2 separate regions of the Homo sapiens genome follow, and region 1 is linked to region 2. The links come from fine-mapping of genetic effects on gene expression. A gene starts in region 2. The other region holds a variant in brackets. All regions are shown on one strand. Distances are between the middles of the regions. Region 1 overlaps SCUBE1 (signal peptide, CUB domain and EGF like domain containing 1). Region 2 holds the start of SCUBE1 (signal peptide, CUB domain and EGF like domain containing 1).

Evidence for each region. PIP is the estimated chance that this variant, and not a neighbour inherited with it, causes the effect.
Region 1: its variant is fine-mapped to the expression of SCUBE1 in aorta (GTEx, PIP above 0.99). The same link has a PIP of 0.9 or more in caudate, cerebellum, cerebral cortex, nucleus accumbens, prefrontal cortex and putamen.

What each region holds. Positions count from the first base shown.
Region 1 is chr22:43,296,434-43,299,325 of GRCh38, forward strand. All of the region lies in intron 3 of SCUBE1 (signal peptide, CUB domain and EGF like domain containing 1), which reads right to left. Among named protein-coding and RNA genes, the nearest start is that of SCUBE1-AS1, 22 kb to the left of the region's middle. The variant T/C (reference allele first, on the strand shown) is at 1,294.
Region 2 is chr22:43,341,891-43,344,782 of GRCh38, forward strand. SCUBE1 (signal peptide, CUB domain and EGF like domain containing 1) reads right to left here and starts at 1,482. Exons shown (of 22, transcript NM_173050.5): 1 at 1,284-1,482. The coding sequence starts at 1,371.

The DNA of each region.
Region 1 (2,892 bases), 45 kb before region 2:
CATCTTTATTTATGACCACAGCTAAATGTTCCCAGAAGGCACGGAGCTCCTCAGCACAGCACAGGGACTTAGCTACAAAGAGACAGGAGGTCCCCTGGGCTCTGGGGCAGACTCTAGGAGGCTCCTTTCAGGAAATCCTTTCAACTGGTGAGAGAGACGGGGGAGGTAGAGTGGAGAGCGGGCCCTCCATGCCCGGTCCTGGGAGGAGCCTTTCACAGCTGTCTGGACCGGCGTGGTTGAGGCTGGAAGGCACTGGTCCACAGCCTCTTTTGATGTACAACTGTATCTGTGATTGTGCCATCGAACCGCCGGAGCCCTTCCCTCTTCCGGGCCAAGGCTGAAATGGCAGGCAAGGGAGCTGGGAGGAAGAGAAGGTGGAACCTTGGTGGGCCGTGCCACAGGGGCCTTCAGCAGGTGGGGCTGGGAGACCCCCTCGGAAAAAGACCACTCCAGTGAGGTATGGGACAAAAGACAGGGAGCCTGAAGGTCCTTGAAGGCTGCTCCCCGTGAGCTGTGAACTCCCATTCCTTCAGCCCGCAGAGCTGGGGGAGGTCAGAGGTGGGAGAAGGGAAGGACAGGAGTCAAGAAAGGCTGAGCATTTGGAGCACAAAAGAGGGGCCTCACTGGTCAGGGTCTGGCCCTCGTCCCACCCAGCCACCAGGCCTGAGGACCCTGTTGTTCTCGAAGCCCCTTTCTTCTGCCCCTCTCCCAAGGGTCTGACCAAGGCTGCTGACTTTTTCCACGCCACCTTGCCCGTCCATCTCCCTGGCTCCCATGAGACAGCCCTGGCTTGGACCTCAGCTTCCTCTTTGGGGTAGGCTGCACACTTCTCCTGGGTCTCAGCCTCCAGCCTCTCCCTCCCAATCCCTTCTCCATGGGCAGTGGCTGCTGTGATGAGTCTGGCTGGAACAGGACATGGCACCTTGGTCCCACAGGGTCTCTGGGGTCAGGTCCCACCTCCTCACTGTGCAGTACCCAGCATGAGCACAGCTCTGGAGGCCGGGGTGGCGGCGGACGGCCCTCAGCTGTGACTCTTGCCCATCTCCACTCGGTCCTCACAGGCGCAGGCCACCTCCACCTGCTGCCAGCCACTGAAGGGTGATGTGTGGGAGGGGACCCCTGTGCTGTGATTGACATGGTTGTTTTCCAGCAAGAAGAATTTCCAGAGCTGACATCAGCAGGCCATAGGTTGACCCGCTTCCGAAAGGCCTCTGCAGGCAGGACCAGTTTCCCCGGGAGGTGTGCTTCTTGGCCCAAGATGCTGATGTTTGTTTTTATTAATAGCTGGCTGTT[T/C]GTTCTACTTTGGACCAAGAGTCCAGGTTCACAGTTATTTATAACAACTAAAAATTACTTCTGGATCCAGCTCTGGCTGCTTTGTGTTTCCCGCAAATATTTCCCGATTTGAAACAGAGACTCCGTGTTCTGCTTGGACCCACCCATGTTTTCATGGCTGTCAAGAGCCTACTGTGTGTCAGGCCCTCCACTGGCTCCGGTGTCCCAGCTCCCACGGAAGGTCTAGAAACAGAGGCAGAGGTGCCCAGCCCATCTTAGGAAGCGAACTCCACCTCCAGCACGGAGAGCTCCCACCTGGTCCCAGGGGGCTGAGGCCCCCACCGCCTGCCGGCTCCTTTCAGAAGGGCGGCTTAGGCAGAAAAGCCTCTTGGCTATCTAGCGGCTCTTGCAAAATTGCATTTGATGAGTTAAGTGTAAATAAATGAGAACCAGATGGATTAGATTTTGGGTAAAATACACACGGGTCTTAGAGCTTTGGGGCCTGGGTTCTGCCAGATCCAGAACACTCTCCGAGCTGTCAAGAGCTGCTGGCACAGGCGGCAGGAGGTATGCCTGGGGTCTCCCAGGACCTGTCTGCTTCCTGGTCTGGGCATCAGCTGAGGTCTTCCCTGGGGCTCCTGATTCCCCAGCAGGTTGGCCGTGTGCAGAAGACACAGAGCCAACCTCTTGGCCTGGGCCTGAGTCCAAGCTCAGGGTGGGAGATGAGGCGCATGAATGGTAAGGTCAGCTTTCCAGACCAGCAAGCTCACTGCTCACGTCCAAACCCAGCAAGCCAGCCCAGGGAAGGCAGAGGTGGTGAAGCCTGCTGGCCGCTGGGGTCTGCTCACTCTGCTCTCCGCAACCTGAGTCCTGCCTTCCAGCCCAGCCGCTGCCCTGCCGCCCCCTGCTGTGCATCTCTAGGGAAGGACGGGAGTCTACCGCCCAGTGCAGACCGCTGGCCAGTCCTCAAAGGGGTCTGCGTGATGCTGCCCTGTGACCACTGCCCATGGGACCTGGCTGTTGCTCTACAAGTCATACCAGATGGAGTACAAGATTCAGTGAGTCGACTGGGCTTGGTGGCTCACGCCTGTAATCCCAGCACTTTGGGAGGCTGAGGCGGGCGGATCACAAGGTCAGGAGATCAAGACCATCCTGGCTAACACGGTGAAACCCTGTCTCTACTAAAAATACAAAAAATTAGCCGGGCATGGTGGCGGGTGCCTGTAGTCCCAGCTGCTTGGGAGGCTGAGGCAGGAGCATGGTGTGAACCCGGGAGGCGGAGCTTGCAGTGAGCCAGACCGCACCACTGCACTCTGGCCTGGGGCGACACAGCGAGACTCCGTCTCAAAAAAAAAAAAAAGAAAAAAGATTCAGTGAGTCTTTGCTGGTCACTTGCTCTGTGACCTTGAGCAGGTCATTTCACCATTTTGGGCCTTGGTTTCCTTCTCTATAAAACAGGGATAAAAGTCCCTGAGGTGTTTGGGAGTCAAAGGAGGTGATGGAGGTAATGTACTCTGCACAGCGCCTGGCACACACAGACCACCACCGAGTGTGAGCAGGTGCAGCACGAAGCCGCTGCTCATGGCCTCAGGGAATCACGGGTACGAACGTACTCCAGTG
Region 2 (2,892 bases):
ACACAGGTGGGGATAGGCACGCCCAGGAACAGTCACTCAGAGGTGAGGGACCCCAAAGCTTGGGAGAGACACCCACAGACACAAGGGGGATGATGGGGCAGCAGGGCTGGGCTTCCAGGAGGGGTGTTGCTGTGGAAGAGTCTCACAGGCCCAGCATCCTCACTCGGGGCACGCGGGACCACCAGGAATAGACCCTACGCCACCCATACCAGACCTCAGGAAGCCGGGAAGGACGTGCAGGACCCTCCCCCTGCCTCCCCCTCCAAGCAGAGCACCGGAGGAAGCGCCTCTGATGACGAGGAGGGGAGAATGTGACTCCAGCTTTTCGGGAAGCCCCTGAAGACAGAGAGCAGGAGGGGACCGGGTGGGAGGGTGGGGGGGTCCCCGTGAAACCCACGGGCCTGGGCCTGTGGCCTCCGGGTCTCCCCCTCCCCTTCCTGGGTCTGCTCCACCGACGTCCCGCGTCCGGACTCTCCTCCCTGTGTCTGTCCTCCGGATCCTCTGCCTTCCTTCCCTCTGTCTTTCCTCCCCGTCCTGTCAGACGGTCCCGGTCCCTCGTCTGCGGCTTTCCAGGTATCTCTGTCCCTCTCTCTTTCCCGGTCTCCCTCTCACCGCCCCCCCCAACCCCGTTTTTCTGCGGCGTCCATCTGTCCCCCGTCTCCTCCTCTCTCTCTCCCTTATCATCGGTGGGACCATCCCTCTTGATTCCCCCTGATCCACCGGCCTCCTCCTCCTTCCCCGGGCGGTGCGGGCCTCCTCTCTACCCTTCCGCATCTGTCTTTTCTCCGGGCTTCCTTTTGTCTGCTCCCTCGGCGCCGGCTCTTCTGTCCGTCTGTCCCGCACCTCCCGCCCCGTCCCGGTCTCTCGGTCCGTCCCTTTCCCCGTCCACCTCCTGGCGTGTCCCCCTCCGCCCGCCCCGCCCCGCGCCCCCTCTCCCAGGAGGAGCGCCCCTCTGCGCTCGGGGTCCCGCCCCGCCCAGGTCCGCACGCGGGGTCCCCGGGAACCGCCGCCTTTCTTCCTCGCTCCCGCGCTCGCGCTTCCCCTCCCGGGGCCCCGGCCCACCCACCCCTGGTGCGGCCCCGCCGGACTCAGGAGCCCCGGCCGCCCGGGCTGCGGGGAGGGGGCGCCCCGGGCCGGCCCTAGAAGTTACTTTGCAAAGAGGCAGGGGGCGCGGGGCCGCGCGGGGCGAGCTCGGGATCCGCGGGGAAGAAGCCCTCCGGGACCGCGCCTCGGCCGCCCGAGCCCCCCGCGCCCGCCGCCCCCCACCTCGGTCGGGGGCTTACCTGGGAGCCCGCTGCCCCCGGCCAGCCGCCCGCGTGTGCCCAGGGCCAGCAGCACGCACAAGTGCCAGCGCACGGCCGCCGCGCCCATGCTCAATGCGGGCCCCGCTGGGCGTGCGGGCGTGCGGGGCGCGGGGACCCGACCGACCGGCCGCTCCCGCAGGCGCTGCTCGCTGCTCGCCGCTCCGCCACCGCTCGGGCTCCCGAGCCGCCCAGCCAGCCCGGCTGATGAGCTGACAGCGCGCGCTCATTGGCCCGTGGCGTCGGAGGGGCGGGGCGTCGCCCAGGGCCGGCCAATGGGCGCCGGCCTCCGGCCCTCCGAGGAAGAGGGGGGCTCGGGCGTCGTCGGGGGGACCCTTCCCCTGGGGCGGGCGGCAGGTGGGGGGTGTGGGCCTGGCCGGCCGGCTCGCTAGGCGCGGGGTCTAGGCCAGGCTGGGGCTGCTTGGAGGCTGCGCCCTCCCCTGCCCGCGGCGCCCCGGCCCCCGCCGTCGAGAGTGGACGCCCCTCTGGGGTAACCCCTCCCGGCCCAGAGGCAGCCTCGGGGGCGGGGATCCTGCGAACCGGGGATCCCGTGAGGTCGCCCGCCATCCGTGGGCAGTGAAACGCGCCAGCGCGCAGAGCAGACTCGCCTGCGCTGCCGTTTGCTGGACGTTTCTTGAGCACCTACTGGGGACCGAGTGCGGGCGAGGCAGCAGCGAAGGAACCGGGAGGGGAAACCTCGTGAAGATCACTTGAAAATTGACGTTCAAAACAAACGAACTTTTTAGCACTCGTCAAAGGACAGTGGCCCGTCAGTGTGCTTGTCACGGGGCGGCCGCAGGACCTGCGTCTGGAACCGGGCGGGCGCCCGGGACGGACAATGCCGCTTGGCGGTCGGTCCCGCGGGAGGCCCCCGCACGGGGCTAACCTCGGCCGGCGAAGTTCGCTGCCCGGAATGCGAGGCCGAGGCCTCCCCCTGTGACAGACCGGGCGGGGCCAGGAGGAGGGGCAGGGCGGGCATCCCGGTCCGAAGACCCAGGAACTGCTCTGGCCTGGCCTGGGGTCTACACCTGACGCCTGGCGAGGGTTGGCTTCGGGTCTGGTCCCACCGGGCCTGGGAGGGACGGGCGGCTGGAAATAAATGGCCCCTCTCAGTTCCAGGCAGGACGCTTTAAGGGACGAAAGTTCAGCAAACCCCAAGGCCCATCTCCTTGACAACCACCAATAAGAGCTCCTTTTTTCTTCTCCTGCTCTCCAGGCCCAACTCAAAGACAACTCTTTTCTCTTTTTGTCCACTCTGCCTGCACCAGTTTGAGCCCCTCCACACCAGCTCCCTTTCCTGCCCCCAACACACACACGCACACACACACACACACACACACACACACACACACACACAGTCACACATGCAGACACATGCTCTCACGTGCAATCACTCAGACACAGCCTCACACCCTCACACCCTCCAGCACACACACGCTCACACATGCTTCTTCACGCCCTCATCCAACCTACCGTAGACGAGCTCCTCAGCCCTGGAAGGTTAAATCTGTGTCCAGCCAGCTCTCACACCCCATCTGACTTCACATCAGCTTGTGGCACGGGCCTGGTGGCTGAGGCAAGGGGTCCCCTA